2 separate regions of the Homo sapiens genome follow, and region 2 is linked to region 1. The links come from fine-mapping of genetic effects on gene expression. Tissue or cell type: whole blood. Region 1 holds a variant in brackets; the other region holds the start of a gene. All regions are shown on one strand. Distances are from middle to middle.

Region 1 (8,183 bases):
GCACAGAGAGAGAAAAGAGACATAGAGAAATATGGGGCATGATGGGGGGGTCTCTACTGCAGCAAAAAGGAAAAAGGAGAGCAAGAAATTGAGAAAACAGTTTTTATACATAGGATTTTTGTATGTGTTGCCTATTTTGTCTCAATTTATTTTTATTTTTTTCTCTTCATTCTCTTGGTCTCTCCTTTTCCTGGGGGGTCTTAGACACCATGTGTAACTATTGCGTGCTTCCAAAGTTTTCCACTAAACAGACCACACACATACATACAGACACACCACACACAACCAAATGTTCCCCAACCCCACCCCACCACCACCACCACATACACACAAACACATACCCCTCACACTAAAATAAAACAACCAAAGGAGAAAATTGGAGGGTGGAAGCAAACCAAGAGACAGGAAGGTAAAATCTGGCCCCTGCCTTAAAGCGCATTAGTTAGGAGAGTTCACTCTCTTGGTCCTTTACATTCCGTGGGGAGAAGCAGTAGAAAATTACCGGGTTATTCACTCCGAGTCTAAGCAGCTGAATAGGAAAATAGCTTTAATAGCCCTATTAGGACCTGGGCCAAGGACTTTTTCTTTGGGTTTGTTGTGAATGATTAAAGGTTAACGGTGGCATTTTTCTTTCAGCCTAGGGGAGACAACCATCTCAGTAATGATCCTAATTGGATCCAACTGGGGAACTCCAGAAAGTTTCAGTAACAAATTTGCAATGGTTCTGGGCCTTTTAATATGGATTCACAAAAGATAATGAGGTTATCCTGTCATTTCTACCCTATGGATGAGGAAAGTGACATTCAGACAGGCCATGGGATCTACCCACTCCCTCGTAAAGAACTGGAGGACCAACATTAGCAACAGGACCTCCCATTTGGCATTTTGTTTTCAGATGTGCCTAGAAGAAGGAGATTACAGCTTCTTGGACTGTTGAAGCCTGGGTTCTTCTTGAGTTGTGAAGATATCACCTAAATCCTATCCACATTTTGTGCACCAGGTTTGTGGACGCCTACCACCATTCATTCATTGCAGTGGCTCAGAGAAGATGAAAACAGGACTCTTTGGGGCCAATGAAGATCCCCAACAGAGCTCAGATGACCAGAGTGGACTGGCTTCTACCCTAAATACATACAACAATACTTCCCACTCTGACCTTGCTCACTTTATACAACACCACACAACTAGAGAGTGGCAGAGCTGCTGTGGGAACCCAAATGCCATCTGACTCCAAAGCCTTACTCTCAACCACCACCCTGCTGCCTCCTATTCTTTCCTGAAATCTTCAGTATAGTCATTATTATGAAGTAAAAAAAAAAAGAAAATGAAAGGATGGAAGGAAGGTAGAGGGAGCCCCTCTATCTCCATTCTTTGTTTCCATGAAGAACCTCTACTCCATTTTCAGGGGAGTGCTATTGGTGTAACACACTTTCTGGCCCTCTCCCTCCCATTCTTGTCACTCATTCTCCCCAAGGAAGAAGCGATATGTGGATGATAAGATTGGAAGAAGCCACTCTTATGTTCGGTGGTGTGCTGGTAAATGTTTAGCAGCTGGCTCTGGGGCAGAGAGAAAGCCCTGAATTGTAGTATGTGCCAATCTCCATGGTGTAAAAACACTTCTACCATAGCTGCTTCCAAGTATGTAAATTGTACACCTCAATAAAGCCAATTTAAAAAGTAAAGTCAATCAGTTTGTAAAACTCTTGAGACTTTAACATTCAGTCCAGCAAGCTGTTACCTGCCGGATCCAGCAACACACAACCCGTAACATAACGAGTTGGGTCTCAGCTCCCCGCTCTTCACAGACTCCAGAGTTCTCTCCCCTTTGTGGGGTTCCTCATCCATCCTTCCATTGCTTCTGCTGCTGCCCTGAAGGCATCACCGCTCTCCCGTCTCCTCTTGGGGCACCTAACTCTCTTAACAGTTTAGGACTTTGAGGAGTTTTGCCTTTCACAAAAAGAAAGAATGGGGGAAAAACGGTTATGCCTCAGCAGCTTTCGCTGTCTACCCTGCAGCACAAATTCCACTTGATGGAGGAACACAAAGGTCGGACTCCCTGCCGTGAAGAGGAGAAAGGGAAATTCGAATATGGAAGGAGCTCTACTCTCCCTTGCTCTGTCCTCCGCAAGAGAATGGGGCAGAACATTCTTTAGTCTACACCTCTGTCCCACATGAGTTGCCAAAGACCACAGTGCCTGGTGGGTGACATCTCTCCAGGCTTTTGAAGACATCTGAGCCTGGATTTTGAGCACATTCCTGACCTCCCTACTGGGAGGCTCTTCTCCTTCAAGGTCTGCCTTCTGACAAGCCCTAGCTCTTTCCCACCTCCAGTGGCTGGGTGGGCCGGGGGGTGGGGTAAGGGTGGAGATGTGGGCACATTCTGGGAGCCCCACCAGAACCCCATGGAGTGGAGAAGTGACCTTCTAAGGAGGGGAGCGTACAGTTTCCGGAAGGGAGGAAGGATGCGGTGAGGACCAAATGCATCCATGCAGGATTTCAAATATAAACGACTCTATAGAATACAAGCACCTACTCCTGGCAACCGAAGCCGAAGGAAGCCTAAGAATATAAGAGACGGGGCTTCGGCGAGGGCACGTGACCGAAAACTCACATAACACTCCACCTGCCCCAGTCCAGCCAGCCTGCTGTCCACAGTGTGCCCATCAGTGTATCAAACCTCAGTGCTTTATTTCCTGGGATCCTGGCCGAGCTCCCATTAACCTCCTGTGTTGTCCCCACAGCTCCTATACATGGGAGAGGGCCTGCGTTGGGCCAGATCCCAGAGCTGGGGCCTAATTTGTGATGGGATGCCCTGGGAGGCAAGCGTGCTTCAGCATGTACCCAATCAATAGCCAGACACCCAGGTCCGGAGGTGCCTGAGTCGGTCAGCAGGACGTTGGGCAGGTCTAGGTTCAGAACCTCTGCAGTTTTTCCCTTGGCTTCCCCGGGGCTTGTCCACAACGCCCCCTGCTGCCCATTCTTGGTTAACCTTGTGTCTTGTGGATACCTCATCAGATCTGTTCATGAAGCCTAACGCAAGGTCCTCCCTCCAGGGTGACACAGTGAAGTCAAGTAACAGATGTGGAGATGCTTTGGAGAGCTTGAAACAGAAGACTACATAATAACAATGGGCCAGTATCATAAAGCCAAGATTGAAGAAGACAGAACTGAATATCTCCCTCATCTGCAAAACTTGCCTTATCTTTCAGTATCATCCTGTTTCAGTGGACAGAAATCAATCCATCATATATTTGAGCCCTGCTCTTATAACCAAGTTAAATTTTGCCTAAAATAAGGCCCTGCCTCAAGCAAATCATGGTTTGTTTTTTATTTTATTTTATTTATTTATTTTTTGAAATGGAGTCTCGCTCTGTCACCCAGGCTGGAGTGCAGTGGTGCAATCTCCTCTCACCACAACCTCCCCCTCCTGGGTTCAAGCGATTCTCACCTCAGCCTCCCAAGTAGCTGGGATTACAGGTACGCACCACCATGCCTGGCTACTTTTTGTATTTTTAGTAGAGACGGGGTTTCACCATATTGGCCAGGCTGGTCTTGAACTCCTGGTCTCAAGTGATCCTCCCACCTCGGCCTCCCAAAGTGCTGGGATTACAGGCATAAGCCATCACGCCTGGCCAAATCATGGTTTAGAAAAGGGAGATGGTCAAATATAATTGTTATGACTGCCATAGTACCTACTATGTCCCAGATAATTTGCCTAGGTTTTTAACCCTCACAACACATCCCTAAAACATTGTACAGATGCAAATGCAGAGGCACGAAGAGGCTTAAAACATTCCCAAAGTCACATAGTTACTATAAAGCCAGTAACTGGCTCTATGTCTATCTGAGTCCAAAATGTGTTTTGTCCCCTTCTGTGCCTATGCACAGAGGGCAGTGGGAACATAAATGGAGGTGGAGGGAGGGGTAAGAAGGAGACATCAGTGGTCTACCCTCTTTATGTGATAACAGACTCCCTCTTTTATCTGGCAGCTGCTCCCTCAAGAGGAATACCCATTCTTTCTTCCTAGGTCAAGAAAGAGAGTCCAAGGCATGGTCAATCACAACACTGTCCCTCTAGTCATGGGCCAAGTGCTGGGCACACGTCACCAGCCAGGCTACTCTTAGCCTTTCCCATAATTTTAATAACCTGAGACTGGGAGAAAGAAGCCTCACTCTCTCCTGGAGTGATCAAACTGTATGTAAGTCTAGAGTTCTCTGTGAGTACAGTCTCCTCTAGCAAGAAAGGATGAGACCAACTCATAATAAGAAGCCAAAATACATGTACATATGAGTAAGAGAGAGAGAGAGAGCTGACAGCATTGTTTGGGTGTCTGGATCTAGCCATTCCTGTGGTGGCTCTGTCTAGTCCTTACTTAAATGAGTTAATACATCCCCTTTTAACTGAAGCTAGTTTGTGTTGGGTTTCTGTCCCTTAAAGTCAAGAGTCCTGAGAAATACAATACTGGTCAAAAAAAGTCTTCATAGAACAGGTGAACCAGGAAAAAAGGGATTCACCAGAAAGATAAGAGGAGAGGCAGAGGGTGAACGTAACAGCAGCTGCACTCGAGGAACTGCGAGCAGCTCAGGATGACTTGAGCTGAGATGTGCAGAGGGGGTTGGAGAGACGGGCGAGAGCCACATCAGGGAAGGCCTTGTTTGTCAGGTTAAAATGTTTGGTCTTTATGTGAGGGCGACAGGGAGCCCCCAAAGGGTTTCAAGCAGTGGTGTGACATGCTCAAGCTCGTTTTGAGAAGATCACTCGGGAGAACGGGTCTGAGAGACAGCACAACAGGAGGGCAGCGGATTAGTTATGAGGCTGCTCCGGGAATCCAGGTGAAGAGCTCAGGATGGAAAATGACT[C/T]GACGTTTTTGACTTGGTCATTGGCCAGAGGGGAGGGCAAGAACGAAAAGAGTTGTGTTTTGTTCATGTGCAGTTTGAAGTAAGTATCATACATTTAAATGGAATTGTCCAGTAGGTTTACTAAAAGAGATGACAGAGTTGGCGATGTTTAAGTTTTTCTGAGTCATCAATTCAGCTGTTTGCTGTCTGCCTACTACTGGCCAAGCACTGTGTGGAGGAGAACACCGTCCAGCCTCTGCTCCCTGGCATCACACTGTGGCAAGACAAAACAGATGATAACCAGAGAAACCAATCAAGAAACAAGGGAAGTGCAGGGGAGACCGTAAAGCAGCATCGTGTAGCAGAGGGGCTGGGGTGGGGGCTCCATCTCTTCAGTGGTCCTGGAAGGAGGAGCTGACGCCCTGAGGGTGCAGGAGGTGGCTGAAGATGAATATTCTCCAATTCATGCCCACTGAATAGGAACATGCCCATTTAAAAGCATCCATATGCATTTTGTTTGGCTTGTTGGTTTTCTTTGCCTGCCTATGCCTTCAAAGCTGGCATTGAGGTGGCAGGAGGCTTCTGTGCAGAAAACTGAGGCTGGTGCTGGAAAACTCCCACCATGGCCCCTTTGTTCTCATCCAGTGCCTTTCATCCCACACTCCCAAAGCCCATCCTGGCGCCCACCCTTTAATTGTCAGGCCTGGCTCATCGACACAAGCAGGTGGCATTTGATCATTATTCCTGCATCATAAATGAGGGTAACAAAGGCCTCCCTCTCCAGGGTATCAGCCAATATTATTTTGTGAGTTCAAGGGATCTGACTTTGAGTTGAAGCAGAAAGGCCTGATGTCCCATCCTTTTCATTTCTGGAATTACCCGTCGCTGCATCTTTCTGTTACCGCCATTTCCTCTTTAACTCCACGTATCTAACTGGAAACTTTGCTTTTCTTTGTTTCATCTTCTTTGGAATATGTTGTTCCCTGTGACCCCTCCCCACAAAGCCTTGCCTCTGCAGCAGATGCCCTGAGCCTTCCTGATGCCTGGGACTGGTACCTCATCCAGTTTGCTTGTTTCAGGCACTAACTAAACTAGAATGTGCCTGGATCCCTATGGGCCTTGGCTTTCTACCAGATGACAGGCAAACTAAGAGACGTACACAACCTATGCACTCCCTTCCCTCTAGAATGTTTCAGCAGGGGTCCTCTAAGTAAGAAAGCTGGAATTAAAAGGAATAGTTTTAATGGGGAAACCCTGGCTAGGGAGATGCTTGATACCCTAAGGCTGTATGTCTAGCTAGGTCAGGCATAGCTCAGTGCGGTCTGCATTTCATAGCAGATGTTTAGTTTGGAAAGTCCCCTGGCTACTTGGCTTCTAGAGCCCTCTCTCACCATGGGACTTCTCTGTGGGAGGACAGAACTCATCAATCACATTCTCCAAATGTCAAGTTCCTGCTGTGTAACCCCAGGAGAACCTTGCTTCCCATCTACATAACAGAAGTGAGGACCCCAGATTTGCTAGACAAAAGCTTGAACCTGTGGGGAAAGGTCCCCCCAGCTGGTCAGAATTCCCAAAGAAGGCTACCACTGGGAGATGGATTGCAATATAAATGGCACCCCCACCCTCTGGATGTTTGTCATTTCACCCTTCCTTCTTTACCTGACAATCTCTTAAGAGATTCTTGGGGGGATGTAATACACCAGCCAGGAACTAAATTATATTCAACTTTCTCAAGTAGATACTATTTCAGCTACGTTTGGGAAATGCTTAGCCAGAATTTGAGGTCACTGGAAGAGGTCATAGAATCACTCAGGTTCAGACTTGTGGAATTACTTACACTTTCCAGAACCTGTCATGACTTCTTTGGCTCCAGGGCTTTATACCTGCTGCTTCTTGTGCTTTGGGGTTTCCTTCTCTCCCACCAGCCCTATCCACAGCACACACATGCATACACAAACATGTACACACGTATACACATGCATGCATGCACATGCGCACACATGCACACACATGCATACACAAATGCACACACATACATGCATACACACACATACACACACATTCACACACATGCATACACATACGTGCATACACACACATGCTGCACACATGCACACACATATACATGCACACACATACATGCATACACATGTGTGCATACGCACATGCATACACACACATGCATACACAGCATGGCCTCTGCTTGTCCTTCCAGAGTCTCTTATAAAGCTTTTCCTGATATTCCAAGTCTCAAGCTAGCTACCCTCCTTTTTTTTTTTTTTGTGACTGAGTCTCACACTGTCACCCAGGCTGGAGTGCAGTGGCACAATCTCGGCTCACTGCAACCTCCACCTCCTAGGTTCAAGTGATTCTCCTGCCTCATTCTCCCAAGTAGCTGGAATTACAGGCACCTGCCACCACGCCCAGCTAATTTTTTGTATTTTTAGTAGAGACAAGGTTTCACTATGTTGGCCAAGCTGGTCTTGAACTCCTGACCTTGCCACACCCCCATTTTTACAGTTTTCTAACCATTGACTATTTTCCAGTCTTTTTTTTTTTTTTTTTTTTTTTTTTGAGGCAGGGTCTCGCTCTGCACCCAGGCTGGAGTATGATAGTGCAACCATAGCACATTGCAGCCTCCTGGGCTCAAGAAAGCCTCCTGCTTTCAGCCTCCTGAGTAGCTGGGACTACAGGTATGTGCCACAACATCCAAGTAATTTTTAAAAATTATTATTATTTTTTTTTGAGACGGAGTCTTGCTCTGTTGCCCAGGCTAGAGTGCAGTGGTGCAATCTCGGCTCATTGCAAACTCTGCCTCCCGGGTTTGAGTGATTCTTGTGCCTCAGCCTCCTGAGTAGCTGGGATTACAGGCGCCCACCAACACACCTGGCTAATTTTTATATTTTTAGTAGAGACAGGTTTCACCATGTTGGCTGGGCTGGTCTCGAACTCCTGACCTCAAGTGATCCACCTGCCTCAGCCTCCCAAAGTGCTGGGATTACAGGCATGAGAAACCATGCCCTGCCTAAAATTATTTTTTGAATTATTAATTATACAAAAATCATTAGTTAAAAATCATTAAATTTTGTATTTTTAGTAGAGATGGGGTCTCACTATGTTGCCCAGGCTGGTCTCAAACTCCTGCTTAAGTGATCGTCCCACCTTGGCCTCCCAAAGTGCTAGGATTACAGACATCAGTCACTGTGCCTGGCGAAGTCTTTACCAATTGGCAATAAGCTCTCTGGTTGTCATTACAGTTCCAACGTGCCAGGCAACCAGTAAATGATCAATAAATATTGGCATTTTGGGTGAATACATAGGTCATTAGTGCTACTGTTCTGCTT
Region 2 (8,183 bases), 73 kb before region 1:
AACATCTGCTGGGCAATTTCTATTCCTGTTCAAACTTCATGTCACCTATGAACTCTCACCCCCAGGCTCTTTATCATAACATCTTTTACCATCTAAGGTATGTATGTCAAAGGCCACGCTTAAGTGCTGGACACTTATCTCAGGTGTTGAGCTCTGTTAAGAGTCAGGCCTGTGTCCCATTCATCTTAGGATCTCTGGAACCTAATACAGTGCCTGCCACAAAGAGGCACGTACGTGTATCATATTGATACCACCAACATATTATGTGCCTTTAATGGAATTTTTGGTGATTTCACACACATTTTTAAGCCTTACTAGTTTGCTCTGTAGGTAGGAGAAATTATCAAAGTTTACTGATGTGGACATTTGGTACTTCTCATCAGCCTTGGACCTGGATTCCTTGAATATAAATTAGAAAGCTGTTCTGAGGAGCCATCTAGTCCACCTTATAGTTCCAGAATGTTGTCTTCAACACAGTAATAAATAAACATTTATTGTTTAAAGCTTAGATATAAGTCCTCGTATAGCTAAGGAAGTATGATAAAAGCACAGCTTCTCAATCCTTCTTTGAACATTGCTCCAATTTTCCCATTGAGCTCATTCTGGAAGCTTAAACCAAATCTTCCCTTGATATCATATGCCCATTAACTTAGACATGATTTAGCTTCTCATCATGGCATCTTTGCTGAGAAAGCTAGAAAGAAAATATTCTCCCTGGCACCCAGCCTAGAAATAGCCATATTCCTCTAAACTCATAACTTAAAGCCTTCACTTCCCCCAAACAGCCCCTGCTGGACTAGTTAGTGAAACCAGGCCAGGAAGGCTGATGCTACCAGGGGAGGTATGGCAGTGCGACATCTTTTTGTCTTACCCAGCACCTGCTCCTTGGGGTTCTTGCAATTCCTTATGAAAAAGCACAGACCAATACCCACGCTAGAGAAAAAGAGATCATCAGCGGAATGTGGTGGTAATCTGGTCTGTGTTTTGAAGCCTCTCACACCACTCCTCCCTAAACTGCCTAGCCACCGCTCTGGGCACACAGGGTACAACTCCTGTGGTCCTTAAACAACTCTGGCTAGAACTGTAGATAAGTCAGCACTCGGGGACTCACAGAGAAGAGAGTCCAGGGAAGGAGCATGGCTACCCAAAACGTCTGTTAAGCCTTTAAGGAGCTGGTGAGGACTCTGCAAAGAACATCTGGCTCTGTCCCCTAACAATGGGGGAAAGGAATTGCTTCAGATTGCTGCAGCTCAACTAGCTTTCACATTGCTCCCACTCCCCTTTAACACACACACACACACACACACACACACACACACACACACTCTCTCTCTCTCTCTCTCTCTCTCTCCCCCCCCACATATATACATATGATGTATAACGTTGCTGGTAAGTAATGGCTACCATTTATTGAACACCTGAAAATGTTAATTATATATATTGCCTCATTTAATCTTCATGACCAGCCCATTAAGCAGTGGTTCTCAAACTTGACCTTGCGTCAGAATCTCTCCAGGAACTTATTAAGCCCCACACCCACAGCCTACAGAGTGAGGCCTGAGAATCTCCATTTCCAACAAGCTCGCAGGTGATAAGTATGCCCCACTTTGAGAACCACTGCCACAGGGAAACAGAGATTCAAGAGTGGTTTGGAATGTCTTGCCTACAGTTCCACAGCTAGTAAAGAACAGATCCAGAATTTGAACCTAGATCTGTCTGACTCTACAGACAGTGCTGGTAACCATGCTACTGTATGTGTGAATGTATGCCTCATCTTCCCAAATTCATTGGCAGATCCTTAAAGGCAGATGTCAATCACACTATAGACCTCCCTCATCCATCTCAGAACTTCATAGGGTCTTTGGACTTGGTAGGTGCTACATAAATACTTTGTATACTGGCTCCTACATATCTACATACTTCTAAGAGCCACAAATTCAAACTCAACTTAAGCCAAAGAACACAAAAAGGGCGCATAGCCAGACCCAGTTTTACGTGACATTCTCTCTCGCTACTCTGTCTTTGCCCATGGTGCCACCACACTAACTCCTACTCACTCTTCAGTCACTTCCTTCAGAAATCCTGGGCTCCCTAAAACTGGGGGCCACTGCACCCTAAGTTTATCTCTATGATGGCATTTACCAATCCACTATAACTGGCTATTTTCCATCTCTTAAAGCAGTTGGTAAAAGCTAGCATCTAGTTTAACAGTATACCCCCAGAGCCTAGCACAGCACCTGGCACTTCACAGGCAACTCCATAAACTGTTGAATGAATAAATGCAGAGCTACAAGTCCTAAATTCTGTGTAAAAATATCACAATACGTGATGCGCAGTTCTCAAAGATGAATCCCAGAGAAGAGGAAGGCAGCCTAGGTAACAAAGACCAATTTTGCCTTTTCTTTTCCCTATCACTTCTCTCACACTTGGAGAACATGCACCGCTTAGGGCAGCATCATCCGTGATGAGACAACATCCTAGCTGAACAAAACGCTCGTGGGCTATAAGGTCAGCAGAGGCCATTCAGAGGGGAGGAAAGTGTTCTGTGGCCCTTCGTTTCTCCTGATTTCTCTCTGACACACTCTCCTTTTCACTGTTTCTCCACCCCACTGCAGTTAAGGGCTTTGGCACAGGGATGAAAGAGACAGATCAGACTCAAGGGTGCGGATCTGGCAGCGGGCACAGAAGCATCTCCTAGCCTGCACCAAAGTCCACGGGAAAGATCCAAGGGGACAGTGACTCTGGCCCCAGATAAAGCGCAGCTAGAACAGTACTGAGATTGGAAGAGCAATAATTTCACATGGACATTAACTGTCAGAGATCTTTTTTAAAAATCATGTTTTTAAAGTACAGACTTCAACTCTATTCCCAGAAAACTGGGCCCTGCTGAATCCAGTGCTTACACAAGCTGAGAGCCAAACACAGCTTCTTCCTCTTCCAAACCCACCCACCAGCCCGCAACATCCACCATGGTAAGCATTTCCCAGGCCCAGGTCAGGACCCTTGCTTCAACTTTAGCTTGCAAAAGGCCCCTTTTTAAAGAGGCCTCTTAGCTTTCTCTCTTCCCTTGCTAATAAAACTGTTCCCTACCATCACCATGTTGCAGTAAGAGAGACCTCTCCCTTCTTCCAACCCCTCTCGGTCTATAACACAACCTACAGCAGGTTGGCCCCATCCAATCAGTCTGAATTGCTTCATGCCAAGGAAATTGCTGCTTTTATTAAAAATAAAAGCACACTAGGCAGGCGAAGGGCTGTGAAAAGTATGAGTCTGGCATAATTATGAAGGTCGAGGTTAAGGTTACCAAAAGAGACATGCAAAGATTTCCCGAAAGCCTGGGGGAATCAAGATGTATATCTACGTGAGTATAGACACACAGATGAAACACAGAGGGAATTTATGCAGCAGATCTAAATAACATCCTCTCTGATAGCGAAAAAACAAAATCAGAGCCACTCTCAAGTAATTTTTCTTTTGATTAAAAAAACAAAAAACAAAACCTAAAGCGAGAAGGAAGAGGGGCCTACTAGACTGAGTTCAAAATAACCACATTTGTTTTATGTAATTTCTGTTATCTTTGCTATAACCTGGGGACCTGATTACAGTTGGGTCAGGAAACAAATCTACTAGTGAAATCCACCAAGAGCCTTGGCCCTTGGAAAAACACGTTCACGTTCTCCGAAAATCCTCTCTTCCTTCCAATGCCTGCTCATGGAAGTGGGAAAGTTGGGTAGGAGAAGGAGAAACCCCTCTCTTCTTAAAAGTCCCCCCACCCTTCAGCCTTCACATCAAGATTTTAAGTTTTAGGAGGATGACAAGCCCATCACCCTGCCTTTGGCATAAAGCTTTACACTTTCACACATACGTTTTCTTGTGTGATCCTCAAAATTTGGCTTCTCAATATTAAAAAAATAAAAATAAAAGGCCACTAACGTAAACAATTTCGGCAACCTCCCCACACCCCCATAAGCCCAGTCACTTTCAAATCTCAATTTTAAATCTCTCAAGGACAATGACTCACAGGGCAAGTGAAGGGGGAAGGGAGGGTCAACTGGTCAAAGCCCATTCATACATGCAACAACTAGAAACCACAGTATTGCCGCATCAGCACAAGATTTTAATTTACGGCGCATTGAGCCCCACCGTACCTTCCGCCAACACCTCGTCCACTGTGACCTGCTGTCGCCCGATGCCGAAGACTCTTCCGATGTAGCCACTGCCCAGGCCCGAGGTGCTGCCCCCTCCTCCGCTGGAGCCGGAGCCCAGGCCAGAGCCGCCCTGCTCTCGCCGGGAGTCGAAAAACTTCTTCATCTTGCGAATAGGGAGCAGCAAAGCAAAATACCGATGGTTTCTAGATTTTTTTTTTTTTTTTTTTTTTTTAAGAAAAGAGATCCAAGGATTTCTTCTCAGATTTCACCTCGGAGAGGAGCCACCCGAATCCGGCCGTGGGGGTGGGGGCTGAGGGAGGATGCCTATAGGAATATGCGTGTCAATCGCGCAGCGGGTCCCCTCCTCCTCCAGAAAGCGATTCGTGTAAGTTTAAACCTGTGATGACAGAGGAAGAAAGAGAGGATGAATCAGTAACACGCTTAAAAATTCAACCGCTGAGTCCTAGGGGGAGCAAAAGCCATCATCCTGGGGAAACGCTTCATGTATTTTCCCGGCGAGAAAAACCGTGGGGCTGAAAACGCGACCCCGGCCCCAGAACCCGGGACCCCCGAGCCGGGAGCTCGGAGAAAGGAGGGATCCGAGCTGCTCCGGCAGCGCCGACCCTCCCGGGCACTGCCTCCCGCTCCTCCCGGGTCTCCCCGCCGCCCCTCGAGGCGGCATCCTGGCAGCACCCACTTGAGACGGCTCGGCGGCCGGCGCCCTGCTACCAGCCCCGCGACATTGTCACGGCCGCCGGGCCGGCCTGCGACGCAGAGAAGAGGCGGCGCTGCAGCGAGAGCCGGGGCCGCGCTCGGCTCCCGCCCGCCCGCCAGCTGATCCCGGGAGCGCCGGGCGGAGACTGACCCGCCGCCCCTCCCCCGCGCGCGCTCCCGCCCGGCTCCATCCACCCAACCAGGAAGTGAACCGCCGCCGGAAGTGCCCCTCGGGGCGGCGCGGCGAGGGACCGGGGCCTCTCCTGCAACCGCCGTTCTGTCGCCACGGATGGGAAGGAGTCGACCGCGAGAAGAGGACTGGGGGAAGAGGGTCTCAGTGCAGACAGAGTTCTGGAAAAGACTGTTGATATCACCCGAGCCGCAGGGCAAGCTGGGAAAGGTAGCTCGGCACAGTCCGGCTGCTGGACTACAAATCCCAGCATACTCCTGGAGGAGAGGGCGAGGCGGCAGCCGTGTGGCCTCCACGGCCTCGAAGGAGATTTGTGGGGTGGCGCGTATGTGGGGACTCGGCAATTTAAACACATCCCGTGAAGAAACTGCCAACAACTAAGTTCCCCCCCCCCCCCCCCCGCTGTATGTTCCACCCTTCTGGAGCCATCTTATTTGCGGCCTGGCCTCCTGGCACAAGGGATTCTGGAGGTTGTGGTTTCCGAACGGATCGAGACTGACACCTGAAGGACGCGGCTTAACCGCTTAGCCCCTAGCGGGTCCTGTGGGTTTCCCGACGTCTCCTGGGCTGAAATGGAAGCGAGAAGTGATCGGGAACATTGTGCTGGCAGTTGGATCCGGCTGCACCGAGCGCCAGCCTTGAAATAAGTAAAACCGATGCCCTTCCGCCCCTAACCTCAAAAGCTGCTTTTGCGTCTCGATGTTATTGAGAGCCGGCTCTGCGGTCAGCTCTGAGCTAGGCGCTGTGAGAACGCTCAGTAAGACAGTGTCTCGTCTGGAAATGTACAGGCGAGATTCAAACCGAGAAACTGCCAAAGGTTGTGTGCAGGGCAGATCCTAGGATACCGGAGACCCAGCCCGTTGGCTTGACCTCAAAACTCGGGGGCTTTTCGGCCCATGCTGTCCCTTAATTCCTCCTCCTTTGCTGACGCTGTGGGTGCGCATCAAAGCCTAAACTTCACTAGCTCCCTTGCACACAAGAACACTAACCCTAACCTGACCAGTTATTTATTTTTCACTTCAAGATTCTTCCATTGATACTTACGTTTCCCTGATACCGTCCAAGTGCTGAGGGCGGGGATGGACTGTGTGATTTGCATCTGCCAAATGCAGAAAATTTGGAAGGTCAGTTGGTACACTTTTCCGACCTAGATTTCCTGATGGATGATGCTGAAGAGTGGCAAGTTGCTGCCAAAAACAAACAAAAAAACCTACCATGATTTATTAATATTATTTTTCTAACCCCTGAATATGGGTTATTGTTCATCTCTGCCCGCTTTCCCCACTCCCTAGTGCTTGTCTCAGAATTTTTTTTTCAGCGGGTATTTGAGTAGAGAAGGGTGTCCCAGGGAAAAAAATGGTTCTTGCTTTCTCTAATCTGAATATTGAGCTGAGCTGTGACTGGGTTAACAGTAGCGTTTGTTGTTGCTGCTGCTGCAGCTTGTTTCAAGTAGTGCCATTGTAATTAAACTCCGTGAAGAGATAGCATCTTTTCTTCCGGAGAGAGTCAGTGTTGTCACCTCAGTTCACGAATTCATGTAGCCACCTCCAGGGTGAAATGCAGCCCCTATTCCCTCAAACTAAGCCCACGAAGGCATGTTCTCTGCACTTTCCTTAAAAGGCCAGATTTTTGTCTGAGGAAGTTTGAAGCAGATCTTAAAATAGATGAGAAAGCTCATTTGGAATTAGACTCATTGACCCCCATTTCTCTCAGCACTTATTTGTCTTGACTGACTTTTTTAAACAAGCTGTGCTAGGTCCTAAAATCAATCTGATGCTATCTCAGTTTTTACCTTTCTAGACTTCTCTGGTACCAGACTAGTCCAGGCTTACACAAATCTCAAGTCTTACTTCAGTGATACAAAAACTCCCAATATGCTTAAGGTAGCTAACATGCATTTATTTAACACCCACGTGAATGCTCTGATCAGAAGCTGAGGGAAGAGGTTTAAAAAACAAAAAACATGACTAGATTCCTTGCCCTCCATTCCCTCACAGACTAATAGCAATTATAATGACAAATCCACAGTTTTTCATGCTTTACATATATTAAGTATATAATGCTCACAACCACCCTATGAAGTAAAGTACCATTATTATACTCATTTTATAGGTGGGTAAGTAAAGCAAAGAGATTAGTGACTTGCCCAAAGTCACACAGTAAATAGCAAAGCCAGGATTCAAACCCAAACATTTTAGTTTCAAAGCCCAGTTCTTACCTGGCTATACTAAACTGTCTACTTAGAGAGAGCAAACATTAACTGATTAAAAGACTCGTGAATAGTTAGAAACCCACGCACAAGCAGCATAGGACCAGGAGACAGGAAACCTCTTGCCACTTCATAGCTGGGATCCTAGACCACTTGTGTCACTGGGCTTATTATCTCAGCTATAAAACCAGAGCTCTTACAACTCTTAGTAATTTTTTAGTTCCTGAGTACAAAATAATGAACAGATCAGCCACTATAATCTCAAAACTATCACACTTTCTGTATAATTTGTCCCATGCTGCTTTGCATTCCTGTTCAACTTTTAATGTATATTGCTGTCTCAACCAAACACCTCAAAGCCAGAGAACCATCTTCTACTTATCTCCTTGGGCATCCAGTATAATAGTTTACATAGAGTGTGTTCTTAGCAGTACTTAAAGTAAATAATTTACTTTAAATGTGACACAAAACAGAGCTATCTGATTAAGGTGGAAAGATTGATTTGAAGTATCCTAGATGAATTTTGAACTAGGTGTGGAAGATGCTATGGGTAAATAGTCAAAGGGAGTGGGAAAAGAAAGTGCCATTTACTATTGTTACAATAGTGATCATATGACCGATGGAACAGACTCTTTGAGGCAATAAGATGCCAAATTATAAACAAGACCTAAGGCTGTGTCAGGCAAGGGTTAAGTCACACATCCCTACACTTGAAGAGTAAACCATCTTCTAACTGCCACAAGGTTTTTCTTTTTCTCTGGTAGCTAAATAGACACTGGCCTGGAGATAAGCAATATTGAATCAATTGTAGCTCACTGACCACTAGATGCTGACTAACTGTATCCCCCCAACCCCTGTTCCACAAACCATAACTATTTCTTTGATTGGACAAGAGACTGATTTCAGTAACATCCTAGTAAGA

Evidence for each region. PIP is the estimated chance that this variant, and not a neighbour inherited with it, causes the effect.
Region 2: it holds the start of AAK1, and the variant in region 1 is fine-mapped to the expression of AAK1 in whole blood (TOPMed, PIP above 0.99).

What each region holds. Positions count from the first base shown.
Region 1 is chr2:69,711,874-69,720,056 of GRCh38, forward strand. It overlaps a transcript of ANXA4 not described here. Among named protein-coding and RNA genes, the nearest start is that of ANXA4, 26 kb to the right of the region's middle. The variant C/T (reference allele first, on the strand shown) is at 4,861.
Region 2 is chr2:69,638,730-69,646,912 of GRCh38, forward strand. AAK1 (AP2 associated kinase 1) reads right to left here and starts at 5,010. Exons shown (of 22, transcript NM_014911.5): 1 at 4,846-5,010; 2 at 4,149-4,545. The coding sequence starts at 4,311. It also overlaps a transcript of ANXA4 not described here. RefSeq lists a silencer at 4,759-5,088 and enhancers at 5,169-5,438, 6,194-6,796.